Linked DNA regions of Homo sapiens. The protein of the gene in region 6 purifies or fractionates together with the protein of the main gene of each other region. This does not show direct contact. Each region holds a gene or a part of one and is shown on either strand. Other genes may lie near its edges.

The links.
Region 1: the proteins of CCM2 (region 6) and SPANXN3 purify together in Homo sapiens (co-immunoprecipitation; one large-scale study listed by IntAct). This does not show direct contact.
Region 2: the proteins of CCM2 (region 6) and PPP4R2 purify together in Homo sapiens (co-immunoprecipitation; one large-scale study listed by IntAct). This does not show direct contact.
Region 3: the proteins of CCM2 (region 6) and CA10 purify together in Homo sapiens (co-immunoprecipitation; one large-scale study listed by IntAct). This does not show direct contact.
Region 4: the proteins of CCM2 (region 6) and STK26 purify together in Homo sapiens (affinity purification with mass spectrometry; 2 studies listed by BioGRID and IntAct, with this or other methods). This does not show direct contact.
Region 5: the proteins of CCM2 (region 6) and STK25 purify together in Homo sapiens (co-immunoprecipitation; one study listed by IntAct). This does not show direct contact.
Region 7: the proteins of CCM2 (region 6) and CMSS1 purify together in Homo sapiens (affinity purification with mass spectrometry; one large-scale study listed by BioGRID and IntAct). This does not show direct contact.

Annotation. Positions count from the first base shown.
Region 1 is NC_000023.11:143,514,676-143,518,713, reverse strand, and holds the start of SPANXN3 (sperm protein associated with the nucleus on the X chromosome N3), read left to right. Parts: upstream 1-1,238; 5' UTR 1,239-1,322; coding exon 1,323-1,400; intron 1,401-1,819; exon of another isoform or gene 1,820-2,024; coding exon of another isoform or gene 2,025-2,099; intron 2,100-4,038.
Region 2 is NC_000003.12:72,999,811-73,003,310, reverse strand, and holds part of PPP4R2 (serine/threonine-protein phosphatase 4 regulatory subunit 2), read right to left. Parts: intron 1-3,500. UniProt on the Homo sapiens protein: Regulatory subunit of serine/threonine-protein phosphatase 4 (PP4). May regulate the activity of PPP4C at centrosomal microtubule organizing centers.
Region 3 is NC_000017.11:51,928,215-51,931,714, forward strand, and holds part of CA10 (carbonic anhydrase-related protein 10 precursor), read right to left. Parts: intron 2,919-3,500; coding exon 2,776-2,918; intron 1-2,775. UniProt on the Homo sapiens protein: Does not have a catalytic activity.
Region 4 is NC_000023.11:132,057,802-132,061,301, reverse strand, and holds part of STK26 (serine/threonine-protein kinase 26), read right to left. Parts: intron 1-3,500. UniProt on the Homo sapiens protein: Serine/threonine-protein kinase that acts as a mediator of cell growth. Modulates apoptosis. In association with STK24 negatively regulates Golgi reorientation in polarized cell migration upon RHO activation.
Region 5 is NC_000002.12:241,498,585-241,502,084, forward strand, and holds part of STK25 (serine/threonine-protein kinase 25), read right to left. Parts: intron 3,125-3,500; coding exon 2,894-3,124; intron 2,213-2,893; coding exon 2,156-2,212; intron 1,698-2,155; coding exon 1,589-1,697; intron 831-1,588; coding exon 673-830; intron 591-672; coding exon 405-590; intron 201-404; coding exon 55-200; intron 1-54. UniProt on the Homo sapiens protein: Oxidant stress-activated serine/threonine kinase that may play a role in the response to environmental stress.
Region 6 is NC_000007.14:45,069,701-45,073,200, reverse strand, and holds part of CCM2 (cerebral cavernous malformations 2 protein), read right to left. Parts: intron 3,376-3,500; coding exon 3,240-3,375; intron 2,813-3,239; coding exon of another isoform or gene 2,664-2,812; exon of another isoform or gene 1,452-2,663; coding exon of another isoform or gene 1,329-1,451; intron 476-1,328; coding exon 418-475; intron 1-417. UniProt on the Homo sapiens protein: Component of the CCM signaling pathway which is a crucial regulator of heart and vessel formation and integrity. May act through the stabilization of endothelial cell junctions. May function as a scaffold protein for MAP2K3-MAP3K3 signaling.
Region 7 is NC_000003.12:99,824,362-99,827,861, reverse strand, and holds part of CMSS1 (protein CMSS1), read right to left. Parts: intron 1-3,500.

The DNA.
Region 1 (4,038 bases), on a different chromosome or scaffold from region 6:
TGCAATTTTTTTGTAGTTTTAAGTGTACAAGTCATTTACATTTTTGGTCAGATTTATCCCTAAGACTTTAATATTTTTAGTGATATTTTAAATTGCACTGTTCTTAGTTTCAACTTTCATTTGTTGAAATTAACTTCCAGTCCACCCTAGGACTACCATTAGCTGAAACACTGCCTCTTCTAATATATAAACATACAATTGATTTGTGTATTGATCTCTTACTCTGCAATCTTGCTAACCTCAATTATTGTAGAAGCTTTTTTATAGATTGACTTTTCTACATATACTTTCATGTAGTCTTTGACAAAAGACACTTTTACTTCTCCCCTTCCAAACTGAATGCATTTTTCTTTTTGCACTGGACACAATCTTCAGTACAAAGTATAACTATGCCCATACTGGTGCACATGTGGGTCTTAGATTGTAGCATCCTGCATGTAAACACTGAGAACAACTTCCAGCACTTGAATATCCACTCCTTCCCCCACCCACATACTGGCAGAATTCATGTTGGGAGACTACATTTACTATGAAAATACACCCCTCATTTGAAACAAGACTAGGATACACAGTAAAGAATGTTTATTCACTAAAATTTTGACAGACTGAAGGCCATTATTGCAGATTGGAAATAGGAAATTTAAAAGAACTACACGGACATTGAGTAAAATAACATGGGTTGAAATTTGCCTGGCAGTAGCCTAAAAGTAAATGGTCTTCAAGGTGCATATGAAGGAACTGTAGGAGGGAAATGGGATAATTAATTATTAATTATTAAATGTAACTAGTAATTAATAACTAATAATTAAATGTAGCCACACTAGCTTGGGGGATTTGAGGTGAGACATCTAAAATACTAAGTCATGGTGAGGGCTGGAAGACAAAAGAATGAATCACTTCATAGGAATGGCTGTGGGGAAGGGCTTGAAGGAATCATCCTCTGACTTCCATGTGAACCATGAACATTAAACATGGAGAAATGAGGAGCGGCGGCAGATCGGTTTGGGATGCATCTTCAGGGGATGCTGAAACAACAACCGCATTTGGTTTCCTCTACATCCCTGTCACCCCTCCCCCACAAGCCCAAGGAGTGGTCAGCAGTGGGGCTTTGTGATGTCAAAGCCACCTTAGGACCGCCATTGGCTGGGACACTGCCTGTATGATCAAACAAAGCTCAAGGGTGTGGCTTTGCCTTGTCACCAGGAGGGTATATATAGGGAGGGCAAGAGCTCTGGGACATCCCACTGGGAAGCTTCAACATAGCTGTGGAAGTCTGCAGTCTACAGGAGCCTACTATAGACATTCTACAACCAACCAGAATCATGGAACAGCCAACTTCCAGCACCAATGGGGAGAAGACGAAGAGCCCCTGTGAATCCAATAACAAAAAAAATGATGAGGTAAGATTGTCAGGTTTTGAAGGGAAGGTGAGGGTGAAAGAAAGACACACAGAGAGGGGGTGGCTCAAACAGCAACACAGGAATACTGCAGACACCTGTGGAAGTGGGGGACCCGCTTAATGCCAGAGCCCACCGCTGCTTACAGGCTGGGGTGCTTGTAGGTAGGGGTGGGAGGGGCCTGGGCAGTATGGCTTGCTGCCCGGCAGGATATTGATAAGATGTTTTTATGATCAGGCTGTTTGGTCCTTTTTCCAGTGGGATGTCATTGTGGTGTATCTTGAAACTTTGCCCAGCAAGATATGATAGGAAAGTTTCTTTAGTTGGACCTTTGTCCGTCTTGTGTTACGACGATTAGGCAAGATTTTTCTCATGGCCCGAACCCCCGTGGAATGTTTCACTTTGACCAAGGTCTGAAAAATAGCAGGGTGCTTACTAAATGGTGGTTTGGACTCACATTCTTGCCTTCTACTTTAGTATAAAAGGAAGAGGGGCATTGTTGATTATCTGGCTGCTTCCTGCCGAATAGGGGAGCTGTAATCAGGGTTTGGGTTTTGAAGCAGTGGGTGTTGGACTTCAGAGTTGTTTTCCTGGAGGCACTGGTACTGGACTTGGCAGAGGAGAAGGATGGTATCAATGTGTTGCTGGGTGGCCGCCTGGACAGGGGAGTTTAGCCTTCGGGAGATAAAGCGGGATATGAAGGTAAATATACATGGGCCAATTGTAGTATTAGGAGGAGGAAAATTAAGGGTCCTAAGAAAGGGGCCCCCTGCTATCTCAGTGCTGACTGCAGCAGAGATGTTTACTTCTGCTAACACTAGAATGAGATGTAGAGCCTGCTTAGTGTGTGTGGAGGAAGATGAGACAGAAGCTACTAAAGGAACCTGGATGGTCTGCTTGTTAGGCAAAATGTTAATGTTTAGGCTGAAACACCAGGGTGTATGTTCCTGACCATTTGGCCAGTAGGCAGAGATAAGAGTTTGTGGCACAAAAGAAGAAGACACTGGGGGTGGACAGACAAAAGTTGTAGGTTATGGTGGCAAGCCATGAGAAGGTGGGTGTTGAATTCTGCAGAAATTCTTTGTTTTAACTTTTATATTTTTCCAAGTTGAATAGCTGCCAGCAAGGGTAGCCCCTCTGACGGCCTGATAGGAAATGTTGGTGGTGGAGGAGATGGAGGCTGTTTGGTTTTGGAAAGAGAGGGGGAAATGGGTTTTTGTAACTAATAGCCATTGTAGCCCTGACAGGGCAGAAGGATATAGGTTGCACTTGAGGGAATTGTTTGTGCATGTTTTCCAGCGAGCGCCCTTGAGTTGGATAATATGAAGAGCGGCTCCAGCCAAGAGGGGAGGGGTTTCTAAAAGGTGTTTTATGGAATCCGTTTGTAACATATTCAGTTAAGAGGCTATGAGGCGAGGGAGGGTGACAGCCCTGTATGTGATGGTGTGGGTGGATTTGATGGATTGGGGGAAAAAGAGTTTAGCTGATCAAGATTATAAACAGGTTTGGGAATGAACTGGTCAAGTAGGTGAGATGCAGGCTTATTTTGGACCGAGTTCATGTGGCCAGGTTGACAGGAAGGGCTGTGAATTGCTGGATTTGTGTGGACAAACAAGTTTAACAGTTGGAAGGAAGAGGGGAGTGTGACTGATTTAAGAGGAAAGGTGTGAGGCTGATGAAGGGGGCTCAACTGTCAGAGGTTGGGGGTGGGGACTTAGAGTATCCCACAGACAAAGAGGACAAAAGAAGAAAGAGGAGATTTGAGTAGGAGTGAAATTTTGGAAGGTGCCCTGCAGTCATACCTCCTGGATTAGTATGACGAATTGGCATGGACTATTCAGGGACATGGGGAAGGGTAGCCAGGAAAGATCTGAAATAAAGTAGGAGATAAAAGATTGGAAATTGGAGACAGAGAGTGTTATGGACTAAGGTGTTCTGGATTGGCAACTTCTGGAATTCTTGTTAAGTACAGTGAGGTTGGTCCTGTCGGGGAAGGAGAATAATATGGGGGTGAGGAAATTTCTAGATGTGGGTCTGGTGCTCTTTTTAGTTTGGAATGGTGTATTCAGTGTGGAAAGGATGTTAGCTTTGCCCCAGTCGGAGTAGTTAGGATAACCTGGTGGGAACATTTCCGCTTAGGTTGGAAAGGGGAGGAGGAGGAGTCTGTGATTCAGACCCAGTCCCCTGGTTGTAGGGACAGGGCGGAGTATTTTGAGGATGGACTTTTAGGCTGGGTCAAGTAAGCATTTGTGTACTGTCTTATTAGATGTTGGGTGAGGTGTAACGCCGGCCAAGTATTCCATATAGAATGGGGGGAAAATACAGGGAGATTCTGGAGGATAAAAGGGCATTTGTACATGAGTTTAAATGGGCTTAGGCTGAGGAGCTTTTGGGAAATGACTCATAAATGCATGAGGAACAATGGGAGAAGTGAAGTCCAGGCCATTTTAACCTTTAGGGAAGATTGGTCAGTTGCTGTTTTCTAAAAAAGTTTCCCTGAAGATTCGGGGTGGTAAGGAATATGCAAAGCCAATTTAATGTTTACAGCCTTTACCAGCTGTTGGTTAAACTGTGAAACAAATTGGCCCGTTGTCTGACTGGATGCAAGAGGGGAGTTTAAACCGGTGGATAATATGGGTGA
Region 2 (3,500 bases), on a different chromosome or scaffold from region 6:
GAACCCAAGAGGCAGAGGTTGCGGTGAGCTGTGATCGCACCACTGCACTCCAGCCTGGGCAACAGAGTGAGACTCTGTCTCAAAAAAAAAAAACAAAAGGGAAAGTTACGTAATAGCAATATGCTCAGACAAGGGAGACAGAAAAACTTTTAAATGGGGGCTAGAAATAGAGAATATGTAAAAAAAAAAAAATTTAACATTCCTAGTAATTATATTGGTGGCAGTAATATTCGCATTATTATTTTAGACTTTCTGATGTGTAATGTTGGTTACAATCAGTAATTACAAGACATCCTGATTCTATCATACCCTGCCTGTGTTCTTGAGAGAACCAGGATTCCTGGTATGCAAAAAGTTATAAAAACCCTGGGCCAGGCGCAGTGGTTCACACCTGTAATCCCAGCACTTTGGGAGGCCAAGGTGGATGGATCACGAGGTCAGGAGATCGAGACCATCCTGGCTAACACAGTGAAACCCCATCTCTACTAAAAATACAAAAAAATTAGCCAGGCGTGGTGGCGCATGCCTGTAATCCCAGCTACTCACGAGGCTGAGGCAGGAAAATCGCTTGAACCCAGGAGGCAGAGGTTGTAGCGAGCCGAGATCGCGCCACTGCACTCCAGCCTGGGTGACAGAGCGAGACTCCGTCTCAAAAAAAAAAAAAAAAAAAAAAAAAGAAAAGAAAAGAAAAGAAAAGAAAAGAAAAATCCCTGTGCACTCCCATGTTTACTGCAGCACTATTCACAACAGCCAAAATATGAAACCAGCTCAGTGCAATGGCTCATGCTTTGTAATCTTTGCACTCTGGGAGGATTGCTTAAGGCCAGGAGTTGGAGATCAGCCTAGGCAACATAGCAAGACTTTGTCTCTACAAAAAAAATTATAAATTAGCCAGGCATCGTGGCATGTACCCTATCTGTAAGTCCTAGCTATTCAGGAGGCTGAGGCAAGAGGATCCCTTGAGCCTAAGAGTTTGAGGTTGCAGTGAGCTATGACTGAGTTGCTGCACTAAAGCCTGGGCAACAGCAAGACCTTGCCTCAAAAATACATTTTTTTAAAACAAGGAACCAACCTGAGTTCCCATCAATGGAAAAGAAAATGTGGTATATTATTCAGCAATAAAAAAGAATTAGATCCTGTCATTTGCAACAACATGGATGGAACTATAGGCCATTATGTTAAGTGAAGTTAAGTCAAGCACAGAAAGACAAACATCACGTTTTCACATATGTGGGAGCTACAACAGTGGATCTCACAAAGGTAAGAGTCTAAAGACTGATGATTACTAGAGACTGAGCAAGGAACAGGAGAGATAAAAGGGGAGAAAAAAGAATATACATGTATTTATTACCACCAAACTGTACACTTAAAATGCTAAAGATGGGGCCGGGGGCGATGGTTCACGCCTGTAATCCCAGCAGTTTGGGAGGCCAAGGCAGGTGGATCACGAGGTCAAGAGATAGAGATCATCCTGGCCAACATGGTGAAACCCTGTCTCTACTAAAAACACAATAATTAGTTGTGTGTGCCTGTAGTCCCAGCTACTCAGGAGGCTGAGGCAGGAGAATCGCTTGAACTCAGGAGGTGGGGGATGAAGTGAGCCGAGATCGCGCCACTACGATCCAGTGTGGCATAGGGCGAGACTCCATCTCAAAAAAATAAAAAAAAAGAAGAAAGAAAACTAAAATGGTAAAGATGGTAAATTACATAAGTGTGCAAGTGTGCATGTGTGTGTTTGAGACAAGGTCTTACTCTGTTGCCCAGACTGGAGTGCTGTGGCACAATCACGGCTCACTGCAGCCTCAACCTCCCAGGCTCAGGTGATCCTCCTACCTCCTCCTCCCAAGTAGCTGGGAGTAGCTGGGACTACAGGCGCATGCCACCACGTTAGGCTAATTTTTTATATTTTTTGTAAAGACGGGTTTCACCATGTTGCCCAGGCTGGTCTCGAACTCCTGGGCTCAAGTGACCCTGGGCCACCTGCCTCAGCCTCTCAAAGTTCTGGGATTACAGACATGAATCACTGCACCTGGCCAGTAAATTATATAAGTATATTTTACCTAAACAAAAAAAAAACTTTTTAAAACGCTGTATTCCTCATTCTGAATTGCAAGTCTTAGTATTTTATGTAGCTGAGTAATAATAAACTTCTCTACCACCAAGATTGTAGTCTTGAAATGCCATTTCCCACTAAAAGGCAGGTCTTCTTGAGAAATATCTGATTCACATCTGGGGCAGGAAATGAGCTTGGAACATATTCTTATACCAGAGAATAAGGATACTATCAAAAACTACTAAGGTCACGTCAAAAGGACTCTGGAGCCAACTGGAAAAGGCTACCACTGACCAAATGGGAGACAACTTGACCGTCAAAAAGGATAATAATTGCAACTCAAACCCATCAAATACCTTTAAATCCATGACTGAAATGCATCAAGTGTTTAAATTCATGATTGAAACACACCATATGTTCCTGTTTATTCAGCGCATACTATATATTTAGCATGATGTCAGAAACTACATTACCTTCAGAAGAGTGTATTCTTTCCAACATAAAAACAATTTTTTGAAGTGGCCAGAAACAATTCACCTGGGGATTAATTATTTTAGTTATATACATATATAGTTTCCCTCTTCACATCAATTTAGTATGTCTTGGCATCTTTCCTAACTTCCTACATCAGATGTTTACAGGTAATTTTAATAGACTAAGAAGTAAAAATGTTCAAATTTTTCCTACGGCCTCCTCCATTTTTCCTACAACCTCCTCCATTGTAAAAGCCTATACTTACAATTCTAAAACCTCTCTAAAGCTAAAAGCAAGTGTCAAATCAATTGTCTTTTGAAAAGAAAACTAAGCAGCCTGGGGGGTCACTGATTTTGATCCATAAACAGTTTCACATACTACTTCTGTTAATGCTTTCTTGCTATAATGCATCAGTGAAAATAAAAACAACTATGAAATTTTTTTTTGAGACAGAGTCTCACTCTGTCACTCAGGCTGCAGTACAGTGGCACCAACCATCATGGCTCACTGCAGCCTCAACCTCCCACATTCCAACAATCCTTCTGCCTCAGCCTCTGGAGAAGCTGGGACTATAGGCATGTACCAACACACTCAGGTAACTTAAATTTTTTGTCCTGAGCTCAAGTGACCCACTGTTTCCCAAAGTGCTGAGATACAGGCATGAGCCACCACATCCGGTGGAAATGCTTATCTTAAGCAATCCACCCATCCTAAAACATCAGAAAAGTCTAAATTGCTGTTCTTTAAATTTTCATTTTCATTCTCTCGTTACAATCTCACATACTAGACAAAGCTTAGTTTAGCCATAAATAGGTAGCAGAAACTCTGCAAATGTCAGTATCAAAGATATGCCATGTTGATAAAAAGAAATCAAAGCTTAAAGCTAAATGCATAAACACTGGCTGCTATTTACATAATAAAATAAAAAATATTTTCCAAATTCCATTGAATATAAGAATCTAACTACACCAAT
Region 3 (3,500 bases), on a different chromosome or scaffold from region 6:
ATACAATATTTTAAATAACTTTTTGCATGAAACACAGTTTGAACTGCATTTTGACTGCAACCTGTCACATGAGGCTAAAAGGTGAAATAAATCTCATTTTTAAATAAAAATGAATATTTTCTATTACACTCAAGGCACAGTGCATAGGATGAGAAGGAATAACTATTATTCCTTGCTATTCTTGTACTGAGGTTGAATTTTAGCCTTAAACTATGGTAAGGAAAGCCCTTGTTCCTTCATTTGAGCCCAATGTCAGGTCAAATATGTTAAAATAAACATAGTAACGCAAGTCAGGGGCTTCCAGAGAGCTGCATCACAGTTTTGTGCATAAGATACACTTGAACACCAGAAAGAATAATGCTTGTGGATAAAAATGCGACACAAAACATGTAGTTACTAGGCTGCATTTCACGTACTGACACCCAGCTTGGCTCAGACTTCAAAATGTGACATCTTGCCCAAATTCAACAAAACTTCCCAGTCTTACAGGGTGATTTTCAAATCGATTAAGTTGGGTATTTCTTTAAGGGAAAACAAAAATCAGAGCAGTGATTTGAATTCTCACTTTCAAAACAAGTTTCCAACTCATTAAACATCACCTTCAAAATGTGATACAAACATGATTTACCTATTGCCTAGCAAATTAAGGCATTTCATTACCAATTAGTTTATCACGACCAACTATATTTTATTTTCTACCTTTCACAAATGCAAAAGGAACCATCAGACAGTTCTCAGCTCTTCAAACCACTGACAACAAAAATTGTGCCAGATATAAATATTTACATCATGAAAAGTAAATGTTGCCAAGATTCCAAACTCCAATGCATTTGAAAATTGGTTTGGATCAGGTATACTTTCCTGAATTGGAAAGATACAAAATCATCTGTTCAAAAAATATCTCTAAAACAAAAAAAAACCCAAGTCATAACATGTGAGTGATTTTTAACACTAGACTATCTCCCAATCTCTTCTTTCCCAATAAATTTTAGGGAGAAGCTGTGTTGACATTTTTTTCTTTCACATCAACATTTTTCCTTTAAGACATTCTGATGGAAAGTAAAAATTATATATCCATTGTTTGTGTTAGTTTGACACATTTTCCATCTCAATCCCAATCTGTACTTTATCTAAAACCCCTTCAAATGCTTGCCATAACTCGTAGGCGAAGGATTCAGCTCCCGAACACTGCCTCAGGACCTGCCCTCTGCTGTCCTCTCTAGCCTACCATCTTGCAAGCCTCTCTTCGCTCCCTGTGTTCAGCCTTGCTGGCTACCTTTCAGCTGCATTCTGGAACTCAGGCACCAAACCCCATTCTGTATCTTGGGCTTTTCCACCCCCTGCTTTTCCTTTTGCCTAGAATGCAATTATCCCCTACATCACCCTCTCCAAGAAAGAAAGAATGACTGAATATTTAATCATAACTACAACTTTTCCTTCTTAAATACTGACCAGCGAACTCACACGTGTTCACGACTTTAAATAAATAATTCACCTTTTTAAAGAGAAATGTACTTAGAAGCCATGACAAGCTCCTTGCAGAATTTATAAAAATAAAACTATAAATGGAACAATAATTAGGATAGCATCGTTTTATATGGAATCAGAGCAATAAACTAAATGACCTATATATGACCTTTCCACAAAAATGCTTCTCAAGTCATATTTAAAACAGTACACAAATACTGCATAACTAAATGGTGTCGACCACATGCAATGTCTTTTAAAACCTGCTTTGTGACCTGAGTCAAAGTCACTTACAGCTTTTTGATGAGTCATTAGGGGTGTGTGTATCTGTGACAGTTACATGGTACAAGAAAATATATTTCAATACATCAGAAGGGGAAAAAGTTAACTTACAAACTTCATGGTATTTATGGTGAACAGACTGCACAAAGGAAGAGAGAACAGAGCCCAATGACCCAAACCCTGAAGAATCAGCCGCTGGTATTATCAAAAGTTGTCAATAATTTTAACCTCAATTTTTTGCACACAAATTATTTTCCATTTCTCTTAACAATAGCTAAATTACCTTTGAACACAATTTTCTGCATGTGCATTTTTTTTTTACCTTTAACAACCTACTCAACAGTAAAAGATAGCCAAGTAGACATGAACCAGCAAGAGAAGTGCTAAGATTCCAGTGATGAGAAGACCCAATGGGCACTTGTGCCCTTCCACAAATTAAAGAGGAGCTCGTTATGGGGGGAGGAGAGTGAAGGAGGGATTTAGGTGTGAGAATCACAAAGCCCAGCTCAGCATTTCTGTGCAGGAGCTAGGATTCTTAGCAAGCAAGATGCCCCTAGGAAGATTAATTATTGATTTTCTTATAAATCATCTAAGGTGATTTTTGTCTGTTTTTTTCCTCCCAAGATGATGAACGTCTGATTTTATTTTTGTTAATTGGTTTTCTCACTTCACTGAGGTTAAAAGAAGGCCTAGTAAAGCAGTTTCTTAGAGGAAAGATTTTCCCAGCATGATAGGCAGGGGTGGCCACTATGCTTTCTGTCCTTTATGGGGGTACCAAGGTTGTCTGATAAGACTTCAGGCAACCTCCAGGAGGTACAGAGTAATCAGAAGCACAAAAGTTTGACTAGTTAGGGAGAAAAAGCACAATTTAGACATATTTCTATCTAATGGCGGCAGGTCTGAAGTCTGTGGTATTCCTAGGTGGGAGGACAAACTCATCACAGAGACTGAAGCCTTGAGGATTAGCTTTCAGAATCAAGATGGCCCCATCTTCAACTTTACCATGGAAGCAATATGGTGGCTTACCTTCCTGCCCCCCGTGTTGATGCGAAGAGGTGTCAGAAAGGGGTCGAAGATCATGTGACTGGTCTCTATGTTGACTGGCGACTGCCGTTTCCCCACAGAGCAAAGATTCCAAGCTGAGTTCACCAATCCCCAGAAAGAAGGAACTAGAAACAAAAAGAAATTATAGAATTAGGCTGAGTAGCAGGTTGGGGAAACAACATAAATAAACAGAGCTATGTACAAACGTGGTAAAATGGAAGAGAACCACCAAATGTTCCCACCCATGGAGATCCTTGGGGGTTGCTATGGTATTTTCCTGGTCTGAATCTTGGTCCACTTCTCTAAGTCTTACCTGCATGGTCTCTTGTCATCAGATTTTCTTGTTTGAGGCCCACTCATCCTGCAGTTTCTTTGTTGACTGCAGTCATCATTAACACTTTAATGCTAACATCATTGTTCAGGTCTCATCATCTTTGCAATATGCCTGGGGTAGCACAAATATTTAGCAATTCCCTGGAGTTGATGCTGTGCTTTTCCTATCTGGCAAGAACGATGTGAAAATCAACCTTATCCTATTTGGAAGTTTTTCAAGGAAAGTGTCATTCAGTGTACACAAAGTTTTTCTTTGGGTTGTCAAGACTAAACTGAGGGAGTGACTTATTTTATGAGCCCCCTAATCAATGCCAGACAAGAGCTTAGCAACTTGACTTCATCTTTGTTTAGTTCAACACTGTGTCATTAACCTA
Region 4 (3,500 bases), on a different chromosome or scaffold from region 6:
TGGTTCTTACAATGGTGGATAGGTTAAAAATTGTTTCTTCTGCCACAAGTTTGTTTCTAACAAGTACTATACTCTATCATATGAATTCAGAGAGCTTCCCATTCACCTGACATTTAAAAGAAAAAGATCTTATAAAACATGCCTGCCTATTTTGCAGTTCTGCATGAATGAAAGCACCTGTTTTCCAAGTTAAAAACAATGTGTGCCTTTTTGTTTGTACTAATTCAAAACAGAAACTTGCCAACTGTCTGTCAGTAAAACGTGTTCATAGAAAGCTTGAAATGTGACTTTACAAAGTAGTATATACCATTAAGCATTAAAATTACAACTACTCAATTTCTAGATCTGAAAATAAGGAATCCTTATTTGTTCTGGAAATCAGTGGTGGTGAGGGCTGCACAACACGCCTGTAATCCTGGTATTTTGGGAGGCCGAGGTGGGAGGATCGCTTGAGTCCAGGAGTCTGAGAGCAGTCTAGGCAACATAGGGAGTCCTCATCTCTACAAAAAGTGCAAAAAAGTAGCCAGGTGTGGTGGCATATGCCTGTAGTCCCAGCTACTCGGGAGGCTGAGGTGGGAGGATCAATTGAACCTGGGAGGTGGAGGCTGCAGTGGGCCAAGACTGCGCCACTGTACTCCAGCTCGGGAGACAGAGTGAGACCCTGTCACAAAAAAAAAGCAAAACAAAAAAACAAAACAAAAAAAAAACCACCCAAAAAACAAACAAACAAAAAAAACACAAAATCAATGTGAATGTAGCCAATGCCAGAGAGCTGTACACTTAAAATGGCAAATTTAGTGTTAAGTATATTTTGCCTGATTAAAAAAAACATACAGCACATAAGACTTTATAAAACTGGAAGTGACAGTAGAGATCATCTTGCCAAGAATATGGCTAGAAAATTTACCACTTCTGAGTCATTTTCCTCCAGCTTGGAATGCTGTGTCCCTACCCCACTTGCACCTTCCAACCCCTATCAAAATCATTCTCAAGACTTAGTTCAAATGCTACCTCCCTAGTTTGAGGGTTATTGCACTTGATGTACTCACAGATAAGCAGGCTATTAATATGAAGCAAGTTATAAACACATATCTGGGGCTGAGCAGAGAGGATGAAACCAGAGACATCAGTTTAGAAGTTGTCAGACGAAAGTAGATGAGATTAACCACAATATGCAAAAGAAGAGGAATACACATAGTAGGCATTAATAAATAAGCGTCTGTTGAATTGAATCTAACATGGGGCTTCTTAGAGGTGTATTATATTAAGTTTAAAGCTATTCCTATTTTGAGAAAAGAACATTTTAAGAAGGAACAAACTTTCTAGCCTCCATTTTCTTCAAGTTTTATAAGAGAACTCCAAAACAAATGTTAACAATAAAAGAATATTCCAGAGGCATTGAGCATACATAAACTGGCTGTAAGCACATACAGTTTCAGTGAAAAATAAGGAGAAGGCCACAAAGCCGTACAGATGATTCTGAAATATTTTACTTCATTCAATTCTTTTTTTTTTCATAAATACTGGTGATGGTGGGTGGGAGGCAATATTTCCTTAACATACACAGAAATCTAAAGGCAATTTTCAGCAGCAAATAAAGGCATGATTCAAATTCTATTCAATGCCTGAGTGTCATTTTAAGATTTACACTGAACTAGAAAAATATTTAAAGATTATAAAAGATTATTCCAATATTATGAGATCAGAAGGGAAGGGTTTGCTTATTTTAGCACTCTTCATAAAGACTAACTTTGTCAAGAAAATCTGCCCAGTGAACTAAAATTAAAGGAAAACACTGTGGTCATACTGATGTGTTTGTCTGGTTTTTAACTCTTGTTTTCAAAAATGAAGTTATACAGTGAGCTTAGTCAAAATGAATACCTAGTACATTTTTTGCATGTCTCAAGGAAATCACTACAACTGCATACAGTTTCAAAGAACATATAATTTTCTCTCAAATGTAATAAACTTTTCCTCCAGCTTACAGTGAGGTCTTAGTTATGGATGACATCCTGTGTAAGAACAACCCATTTCCCAGTTTGCTCAATTAACTTGACTCACAAAATCCTCCATGTCACCTGAAATGGAACAATGGGCCACAATAAGTATGTAAGTTGACTGATAACACAGTTCCCTGATGGCACAAAGAGGATGTGGCCTTGACTTATGTTGACTACATGAAACAGAATCCTGTTATATTTGACGTGATTTTAGTTTAGAAAAAAATACAAACCCACACAGTCATACTATGTTGTAATATAAATGGAAAATAAATGAGTTGGTCAATTTAAGAAAGTGATTTAAATACATGGTATGAAAACGTTGTAAGATTATAGAATATTTCTTTCTCTGTGTGTATATACATATGTCTCAAGACATATGTATATACACACAGATTTATTTACTTTAAATAGATTCAGAACACAAATAATCAACATAAGCCAGCTGCACATTTCTACAATTTTATCATGAAGCAACATGTTCTTCAAAGTAGTGTTTTATATCATAGAGTTTAGTTAATGATGGGTGAAGGAGATAAAAATAATTTGATTTAATCCCTTAAGAAGCTATCTTGGACGATGGTTTTGTAGCACTGGCTGGTCTGAGTACACTTTACAATCAAAATTTGGGACAAACAAAAAACTAGTTTTTAATTATTTAAAGATTAAGTAAATACTGGGTGACTAGTACATGTATACTACTGTGCAACTTAAAAAACACTCTATATGAAATCTTAGGAAAAGAAGATAGAGCTGTCACTCATTTTCCATGGGAGTATTGAATATGAATAAATAAGCAACCAATAAAATTGTCAAACCATATCAGTACCAATTTTCAATATATTATGGAATAGCCATTTTAAATAGGGCGTATTTAATATTTTAGGTCAGCAACCAAAAATAGTGTTTTTGTCACAGGTGCCTAAAAGTAGCAAGGATTCAGTTTTGCCCTAGAGTGAGTCTGGAAATACCGGGATTCAGTCCAGAAAGAGTAAACCAGAATGAGCAAATGATACACACACAGACACACACACACACACACACACATACACACACACGCACACACACACATGTACCACCAAGGAATTGTATGGGAATTAGGAGGAGAACCTAAAACTACTGAGACTGCGTAATCACTCATGAGATCTCTAAAAAAGAATATGATGGGCTGAATTAGCTTTTTAGGAACAAATATGACAGCAAAATTATCACACAAAGGAGCAAATAATTATGTATGTAGTAAAATACAGTAATAGCTAACACTTAGATGTAAATGCTGAAATTGGATAGAAATTACTAGCATTATCACCTCCTTTTGGAGGCCTTTTATTCATGCCACTCCTGAAAAGGACAGAAGTGACTACTTACTAATTTGTGCATCATCTATACCTTGTACATACTTTAACCATAAAATTGGCATCATTTCAGTGCAAAACTGGACTGTGAGTGCCTTGACAGCAGTAGTGAGTTTGTTCACTTTTATATCTTCAGCACCTAATA
Region 5 (3,500 bases), on a different chromosome or scaffold from region 6:
GACCACCCACGTCACAGCACCTAGGGTCACCATGAGGATAAACCAGGTCCCTACATGTCAGAGTCCTCAGAGCTGGACTCCTCGCCATGCCCCTCTGACTTCCAGCGCTTATAGCGGTCGATGAGCTCCGTGAGGAAGGAGGTCTTCTTGGTGTAGCGTGTGATGAACTTGTGCTTCAGGAGCTCCTTGGCCGTGGGCCGCTGCAGGGGGTCAGGGGAACACTAGTCACTGGGCCCAGCCAAGCTCTGCCTAAGGGAAGCAAACGTGAGGCAGCCTGGACCGGGGCGGGCCCTCACAGCTACAAGGCTGGTGGGCCTGGGCCTCCGGGCTGTGCCGCCCACCCCAAGCGAACGCCCTCCCTCCACGTCCTGTCTAGAAGGGACCGGGCCAGAGGCGGGCCTTACGAATCGGGGGTCTTTGTTGAGGCAGGCCTCCACGAACTCCTTGAAGGGCTTGCTGTGCTGGCCCTCCAGTGTGGGTGGGCTGTTCTTGGGAATCAGGAACAGGACGCGCATGGGGTGGAGGTCAGAGTTTGGAGGCTCCCCCTTGGCCAGCTCGATGGCTGTGATCCCCAGGGACCAGATGTCAGCCTGGACAGAACACAAGGACTGTTGCTGCCCTGAGCACCCGAGCCAGGCATGGTGCCCGCACCTGCCCGCCCGCTGCACCCACCTTGAAGTCGTAGGCCGACTGCTTGATGACCTCAGGTGCCATCCAGAAGGGGGTGCCCACGAATGTGTTCCTCTTAATCTGCGTGTCTGTGAGCTGCCCTGCTACCCCAAAGTCCGCCAGCTTCACGTCACCCTGCTCCGAGAGTAGCACGTTGGCAGCTGCTTGACACAGGACAGGCAGGCGTCATCCCAGGCTCCACGTGGCTCCACCCCGGGCCCCCTGAGAAGGGCCAGGGTACCATCCACCTGGCCTCCTAGGGCACAGCAGGGCTGTCCTCAGGACCTCAGCCCTCCTTGCCACTCTCAAACCCAGGGCCACCTAGGGCCACAGGGGCACTGCCAGCAGGAGCCCAACGGCTCCACTCCGAGCTCCAGGGCTCTTCCTGCATTTGGCTTTTACGACAAATCCCAACGACAAGCGACTTCGCCCACTGGGGGCTACCGCAGAGGTGACCCTGACCAAGGGTGTAGCCAACACGGGCCTGCCAGGAAGCCCCCTGCTCCACCAGAATCGTCCCCTACATGACAGAGATGGCTCGTTGCCAGTGGCAAGTCCCTCCCCATGGGCTGGCCCAGCCTCCCGTCTGCTCTCAGCAGGGCCAGACCACACGCTGGGGCTACTCAATTCTACACCTGCTGCTGTGCCGTGCACCACAGGGAACCAACAACTCCAGCCAAGTGTGGCCCTTTCCTACACTCAGTCCACAGCTGGTTTCCTCAGCGTACAAGGAAACCGTTACAAGTAGTATCTTCTGGAAAGGGAGCGAGACAGGACTGCTCAGTTTCAGGGTGGCCACAAGGTTCTCTATACTCCAGACCCTGGGCACCACTAGCCACTTGCCCCTCACAGGCCCCGGCCTCTCTAAGGTCAGTGGGGCTCAGGACGTTACAAGAGCCACATCCACCCCCAGCAGGACCTTTGATGTCTCGGTGGATCTTGCGTTCGGAGTGCAGATAATCCAGGCCCTTCAGAATCTCCCGCAGGATCGTGGCAATGTATGTCTCCTCCAGGGGACCTGGTTTAAGCTGGAGAGGAAGGTGCGACAGCAGGGCCTCAGCTCCTGTCCCAGGCCCAATGCCTGAGTTCTCTGCCTCTCTCACAGGGAAGGGCTGTCCCTGCAGATAGCTGGGGGCTTCGTGTTCCTTTACTTCCCAAACAGAACTAAGTTTCAGATGGGAGTGGGGTGGTGGAGGCTCTTTCTAAAGCATATAAACCAGCCTCACCTTACTGTCATGTAACAGAAAAATAGGCTCCCAGCCATCTCCCAGCAGGCCTGCCCCCGCCCACTCCCACAGGCCAGGACCCCTTTCAGCACCAACTGGGCAGACGTGCAGATGGCAGTTCATTTTTGCTTTAGACGATTCCTAATTAACACCTAACGTGCCATGACACCAAACGAGAGGTGGCCCCTGGAGCCCATGAGTCTGAGGGGCAGGGGACTCGGACACTGCATGACCCCCCACTGCCATGGCCTATGCCTCACCAAGTCCAGTGCTGAGCCGCCGCCCAGGTACTCCATGATGATCCATAGCTTGGTGCTCTGGGACCGGAGACAAACCCATCAGCATTTGGCAGCAAGAGGAAGGGCATGCTCCAGGGTGGGAGTCACAGGCCGGAGTCAGCCAGGGCCCAGGCCCCACCGGTCCCATCCCTGCCAAGAACCCTGAACAGGAAAGGGCTCTCTCGGCCTTGCCCATCTTCCCCTCCTGCCACACTACTGCTACAGATGCTCAGAGGACAGGTTGAGTACACACAGCAGTGGCTGACTCCACTTCACCAAGACCCCATCAAAAACCAGGCTGCTGATCCAGTCCTACAGGGCTGGGAAGAGGGCATGGCTGGCAAGCATGTGACCCGACACACCCATCACCCTCCTGGGCAGGATGGCCACAGCGTTCCCTACACCCCAGACACTGGCACCACCAGCCACCTGCTCCTCACAGGCCCACTCACCACTGCCAGTAGGGGCCCCCCAGAGTGCTCCTAGCAGCGCCCTCACTGCATTACCACAGGCAGGCAAGTGGGTCCCAATGGCCATTTAGAGCCAACTGACCCTCGTGGACGAGGGCTCACACCCTGCCTGCCCAGGGCAGTTTCCCGGAGGGCATGCACTGAACCGTCAAGACCGCCTTGCACCCTCTGGCATGTCACTCAGTCCCTCTGACATGGAAGAGAGCCGGGCACAGCACCAGCAGGGTCCCCGCCTCCCCACAACAGGCACCTTTAGGTAGGAGCCAAAGTAGCGGGTGATGTAGGGGCTGTCGCACTGACTGAGGACAGTGATCTCCTGCTGGATGTCCTCGATCTCATCCTCGGCCTCCTCCAGGTCGATGATCTTGATGGCCACCACCTCCTTTGTGTGGTTATCGATGCCCTTGTAGACCTCCCCAAACGAGCCCTTGCCAATGCGGTCGAGCTTGGTGAAGAGCTCCTCAGGGTCCACTCGAGAGTGCTGTGGGGCCAGGGCGGGGACAGAGGGCAGACAGCGCCGGTCACAAGAGGCGGGGGACAGGCAGAGGCTGCCCTGCTGGGGAGGAAGGGACCTGTAGGGAAGGGGGAGTCCAAGGGAGCGCACCTCAATTCTTCTCTGGTTTCTTCCTTTCTCCCTTTTTGTTCAAAAACTAAACTTGGCCGGGCGTGGTGGCTCACGCCTGTAATTCTAGCACTTTGGGAGGCCGAGGCAGGTGGATCACTTGAGGTCAGGAGTTCGAGACCAGCCTGGCCAGCATGGTGAAACCCCATCTCTAATACAAAAAAATTATCTGGGCGTGGCGGCTCATGCCTGTAATCCCAGCTACTCAGGAGGCTGAGGCAGGAGAATTGCTTGA
Region 6 (3,500 bases):
AGCATTGTTGGGCAGGGGAAGGAGCCAGGGTTGGGGAGGTGGCAGGAATGGAGAGCGCGAGTGGGTGAACTACTACAGAGCCCCAGGTGGTGGCAGAGATGGGCTGGAAGGCCAGCGCCTCGGCAGGCTCGGGCAGGGGAACAGCTCCATCCAACATGCCTATTACAAGCTCACTCTTGGGAGGCCATGGGAAGGTAGGCAGGGAGAGACAAGAGGGACAGCAAGGGCTCTAGAAGTCTACGAGGAGAGGGCGGCGAGCCAGGCCTCAGCCATTCACTAAGCTGGGTACAGTGGGTCTGGGGATGGCTTAGCGAGGGTGAGCTGAGATGGGGGAGCTGACTGGCTGCAGCCTGGACAACACCAGACAACGCATTTGGTGCGTGTCCCACCGCAGGGCTTGGTGGCATGTGCACTCACAAAGTGCTGGCTTCCACCTCGTAGGTCTCCTTAATGTCCACTTTTGTAGAAGAGTCATCTGTAAGGAAGATGCAGAAAACTAAGATGACTTTCAGGGACATAGTGGGGAGGCATTTTGAGTCCAGCCCACTGCTGTATTTACAGGAGACAGCGGCAGCCCTGGTCTTCAGGGACCCTGCTGTCCTTCATCAAGCTGCCCGCACTCTGGAATGTGCTGTGTGCCTCAGGGCAGGGCTTCCCAGACTTGAGCCCACATACACCCCTCCTGGGGATCCTGGCAAATGCAAATCCTGCTGCACGCTGGGCTGAAGTACACATTCACCCATGGCCAGAGCCAGCAAAAGCTGTCTTTGAGGTATCACTCATGTGCCAGGCAGGGTTACTGGGGCTTTGTCTCCTTTAACCCAGGCATATATCACCCCTGTCTTCACTTGTAGATTAGGAAGTAAGTCAGAGAGTTACACAACTTGGCCCAGGTCACACAGCAGAAACCACAGTCAGAGCCGGGCAGTCTGACTCCCCATCTGAACCCAGTGAAGCCACAGGATTCCCAAGACCCTCAGACCAGCAAAGGGTCTGGCACTGAGCAGCTACATTCAACAAATGACATTAGGTCCGTGTGACACAGACTGTAATTTGCTATTTCAAACCTGAGGAAGGCACATTTCACACCAGCACAGACAGTGAGTGAAAGCTTTGTGAGCGAGGCAGGTGAGTGTTGCAGAGAGGGTAAGATTTTAAATGAAGCAGAGGGAGAGGCTGAGAGATAAAAGGGACATTTCTGGCACTAGGAACAAGGTAAGTATGGAGGGCAGAATAATGACCCCCCAAAGACGTCCACATCCTAATCCCTGGAATTGGTGAATATGTTACCAATTTCAAAGGGGAGTAAAGGATGCTTATCAGCTGACCTTGAAATAGGGAGATGACCCTGGAGAATTTGGGTGGGCTCAATGTGATTGCAAGAGTCCTGAAATGCAGAGGAAGCTGACAGTCAAAGGAAGATGTGACTGTGGAAGAGGTCACGTGGCTGGCTGTGAAGACAGAGGAAGGGCCATGAGCCAAGGCATGCAGCCGCCTTTAGGAGCTGGAAAGACAAGGAAATGGCTTCTTCTCTGGAGCCTCCAGAAGGAACCAGCCCTGTGGACACCTCAACTTTAGCCCAGTGGGACCCACAATGGACTCTTAACGTATAGAATTATAAGAGAATATATTTCTGCTGTTTATGCTGCTATGTTTTGGCATAGCTGTAGTAGAGAGAACACAGCAAGCAAAACTCCAAGGCAGAAATAAGCAGAGAATGCATGCATGTGCGTAACGTGTGCACATCTGTGTGTGGATCCCACGGGGAGGTCTTGGGAAAGGCTGGCAGGGGAAGAAGCCCACTTCAGCAACCCCCAGTAGTGGTGTTACATGATGTGTTTACTTTATGAAAATTCATTCAACTGTACATGTATGACTTGTGTACTTCTCAGTAAAAAAAAAATTATTAAAGAAAAAAAGGCCCTTTGGGAATTTTAAAGCACAAGGGCCAAACCAGTCGCACTAAAACTGAATGTTTAATTACAGCTCGATAAATCATCTGCTACTCATATGGTACATTCCTCTGGATAAGCTGTTGACTTCTAAGCCTCCACTTCCCCATCTCTAAAATGGGGATGAAGATTGCACCTATCTCGCTGGGCCACCGAGGACTAAATGAGATAGAGAGGATGCCTGAGAGCTCAGCAGCTGTCTCTCTGCAGCTGCTGGGCCAACACAAGGCGTGTAGTGCCCACAAAGGGCTCTGGCACCAGCAGCAAGAAAGGGAAGAAGGAGGCACTGAGGAGCAGCCCTCACACCAGCACAGGCTTCTCCACCATTTACTCTCTTCACTGAGATGTGCGAGTTACTGGGGAAAGGGCAGAGGGCTGGGACTTATCTCCGTAAAAAGAAGAAATTGTACTCAACAAGCCGCACTGTTTCCAACAGCCTTTTTTTTTTTCTTGGTATTTTTTAGTAGAGACAGGGTTTCTCCATGTTGGTCAGGCTGGTCTTGAACTCCCGACCTCAGGTGATCCGCCCGCCTCAGCCTCCCAAAGTGCTGGGATTACAGGCATGAGCCACCACACCCAGCCTCCAACAGCTTTTTATGCACCTCAATTTATATAACCCATTAATCCTCAATAAGTAATACATCTGAAAAACAGATGATGTTTTTGAAGACTTAACTCAAGTGAGCTTGCTGATGAAGTGTTTTCAATGGACTAACAGACTCCTGAAAATGCTGTGTGGGCCATGCAGGAAGAGACAGCTCTGGGGTACCTTCCATTCTTCCCCATCTGCCACTGCTCCACCACTGCCAGCTGGCCTCCCAGGGCAGCCTGAGCAGCTTCCCATGGGTCTGGCCATGGTCCTGGAAGGAGTTTCACATTAAGAGCAGCCATAGTCTGGGCATACTGAAAAGGAGGCTCCCCAGACCCACTCTCAGCCTCCCCAATTCCATCACAGGCCCCAGTGCTAGGAGCCTTCTCCAAGCTCTTTGTTCCGAGTTAAGTGAAGTGACTTTAGCCACAAGTGGTTCCAAAAAAGTGTTCACAGACCCCAAATTTATTCCAGGAAGCCATAGCGCTGACCTGGTGCAACTCTCTCAAGGACAGGTGACACTTCTGCCTTCATGAAACCCTATGGGCTAATGTGAACAGCAAAGTCTGGAAACAAAAGGCCACCATGTCACGGCAGTAACTGCGCTATTCCAGGAGTAACTCATGGGGAGCTGGGGGCCACTGCAGTAGCCCCTCCTGTCCCTGCTCCCACCCGCTGCCCACTCTCACTCAACATACCGCTGTGCAGGGACAGGTGGTGGGTCGGGGTAGAGGCCCCATCAAATATCGCTCTGTCCAGAAAGTCGATGGTGGACTCCGTGTAAACAACCTGGAAGACCTGGCCTAGCAGACAGCAAAGCTCCTCCGCAGCGACCTGCAGTGGGGGACAGCAGCTGCTCGGTCAGTCTGGCTGGAGACTGCGCCTTCCCAGGCGGCTTCCAGGATACCTGGGGCAGCCCAGATGCTCAATAAACATGAATGAAGAGTGGATACCAGAAT
Region 7 (3,500 bases), on a different chromosome or scaffold from region 6:
GAGTCCGAGGCGGTGGATCACCTGAGGTTGGGAGTTCGAGACCAGCTTCACCAACGTGGAGAAACCTCGTCTCTACTAAAAATGCAAAATTAGCCGGGCATGGTGGCGCATGCCTGTAATCCCAGCTACTCCGGAGGCTGAGGCAGAAGAATCTGCTTGAACCTGGGAGGCGGAGGTTGCAGTGAGCCGAGATTGCGCCATTGCACTCCAGCCTGGGCAGTAAGAGCAAAACTCCGTCTCAAATTAAAAAAAGAAAAAATTTGCGTAGAAAAATGTTGACACTTCTATGGGAACCAGCAGAAACTCATCTTTAAATGGTAATGCAGTTCTAATCCCATTAAGACAAAAGTCTTCAAAGTAAAGTTACATTTGCCGGGTGCGGTGACTCACACCTGTAATCCCAGCACTTTGGGAGGCCAAGGCGGGCAGATCACATGAGGCCAGGAGTTTGAGGCCAGTCTGGTCAACATGGCGAAATTCCATCTCTATTAAAAACACAAAAATTAGCTGGGCTTGGTGGTGCATGGCTGTAATCCCAGCTACTCAGGAGGCTGAGGCACGAGAATCGCTTGAGTCTGGGAGGCAGAGGGTGCAGTAGGCCAAGATCATGCCACTGCACTATAGCCTTGGTGACAGAGTGAGACTCTGTCTCAAAATAATAACAATAAATAAAGTTATATTTTAACAAAAGGATTGACAACCAAAAACCATGCTTGTTTCAAGCAATATGTATTAATAATATAATAAAAATGCAAATACAACTATAAAGTGAGAATACTATTTGGAGTTCAAAACAGTAATGTCTGACCTATATGTAACACAACTGAAATATAAAGCATCTTTCCTCCTGGGCATGTTGTTTCCGCAGAAGTGTGGCCTCTGAAGAAAAATGAAAATAAAAGAAGCTGACCTAATAATTCTAGAGTGATTTCACCTGATGAACTGTTTCAAAGTAAGCAGATAAAAATCCAAGTGAGTGAAAACAAATCCAATTTGTAACAAAAATGTTAAAAACCTGATACTTTTAAGCTGAAGTCTTTTCCTGGTCCTTCATTTATTTACCTTCAAGGTTTCTGAACTAATCTTGAGATATTTTAGAATCAAATATCTGATTTTAACAGATATGTGACTGGTCTAATACATAGCTGATAACTACTAAGTAACGGAGTAACTAAGGTAAAACACAATTCTCTCTGGATTTGTTTCAAATTTCTTCTCCTGAAGACACGTGACATACAATTCACGATGTGACTTTGAGTTTGGGGCAGCGTTTGCAAACTGCGGTTCACAGGCCAAATTCAACCCACTGTGAAAGTTGAAAAACAATCAAAATAAGACTATTTTGTGACGTGAAAATTACATAAAATTCAAATATTGTTGTCCATAAATAAAATTTTATTGGAACACAGCCATACTCATTCGTTTACACATTTATTTTCTATGACTGCTTTTACACTGCAACAGCAGTTATGACGGTGATGACTGGACCCACACAACCTAAAATATTTATTATCTGGATTTATATGAAAAAAGTTTGCTGACCTCTGGTCTAGTGTGAACTAGAACAAGGAACTCAGAAATAGGAATTTAAGAGCTTGATCAACTACTTTTTATAAGCAATATTAGCCATTTAAAAATCAATTAAGAATTCTATGAAAGCTGATAAAAATGGGGAAACTATATTTCAAGCTGTGATATATTTAGTAAAATGTATAATTCTATGAATGCATCTGAAGTGTTCCACTAAATAACATCAGATTAACAACAGATAAAAGACTTGTGCTGGGCCGGGCTCCGTGGCTCACACCTGTAAATCCTAGCACTTTGGGAGGCGGAGGCAGGCGGATCATGAGGACAGGAGATCAAGACCATCCTGCCTAACGTGGTGAAACCCCCCTCTACTAAAAATACAAAAAATTAGCCAGGCATGGTGGCATGCACCTGTAGTCCCAGCTACTTAGGAGGCTGAGGCAGGAGAATCGCTTCAACTCAGGAGGCGGAGGTTGCAGTGTGCCAAGATTGCGCCACTGCACTCCAGCCTGGGGGACAAGAGCAAAACTCTGTCTCAAAAAAAAAAAAAAAAAAAGAAAAAGAAAAAAAGAAAAAAAGATTTGTGCCACAAAATGATATATTATTATTGAATCTGAGGGAGGAAATGGAAGTTATGTATAGGCCTTCCACATTTATGAGTTGTATTTTTCAAGAGATTCATGGACATTTAGCAAAATTATAGCAGGAACTACCTGACATGCAATTTAGGGAAATATGCATAAATTTCCACCTTTAAATGTTCGTAATTGTTGTCAAGAACCACTCATTTAATCATCTGAAAGAACTGTGGAAATTATATGCAGTAAATTAAACCAGACCATGAAGGTTATCTAAGTGTCCATCTGTTACAGCCTTCAAGTGTAGAGCAATGACTAATAACATAGTCATTTTTCTCCCTCCTCTTTCTTCTTTCCTTCCCCTTGCTTTTTAAATTCATCCTGCCCCTGTGTTTTGCCCCTGAATATCTGTCAATACTATTTGCATTTTGACTGAACCACATCAATGTGTAAATCCTGTAATGTAAGCTGATTATGTTTTTTCCCTCTAATTCTGGTACAGTGTCTAAAACAAGGCTAAGCATGAGAGCTTGACGAATGATTATGAAAACAACATGCCCAGAAGTCGATCCTCTGTTGTGTGTTATTAACATCTCCTACAAATATTCCAAGTCTGAATTTTATATGTAGAGACAATGCCTTACAACATCTACAATGCAAGACTGTCTATATGTAAAACTAATACTGTAAAGGTTTAACTTTGGTGTGAAAATAGAAAAAACACAGAACAAAAAAACCTGGGTACTTGGGTTTAAAGAAAAGATCCAAGGTGCTCCCCTACTCCATTTCCAGAAGGAATTCACCATGGATAAAGCAATATAATTTGAAGAATATACCATAAAATGATATTACAACAAAAATATTTACAAAGCTCATTTCAGCAATCTCAAAAAGAATAAGCACATTGATTCTAGGTGACAAAAGCTGTCACCAGTAAAAATTACAGGCTTATTTACAAAGAGTCTCTTGTCCTCTTTCCAAACGTAATTTATAAAATTAAATCCAAATATGGTTACAATAAAATGTTAGACACAGTTTTACAAGGACTACTAATGTAATTTTGAAAAGAGAAAAGCGGCATTTGCCAAATCTGTCAAAAGCCTGGACAGGAGTTTGACAAATCTGCCAGCAGATCAAGGTTCTTTTGATAAAGATCTCCTAGGTTGAGGTCTTCAAGGTGTGACTACGAAATATTAATAATTAATTGGTTAACTAACAAATACTTAATGAGTGCCTTCGCTGTATCCAGATACTACTCTAGGCCCTGAAACTAAAGCAAACAAGACAAACAAAATACCTGCTCACATGGAGCTCTTACAGTCTACTGCTGGGAAAAAGTAATTAATTTAACAAGGAAAAATAATAGTTGGTGCTAAGTGCTCTGCTGAGAAT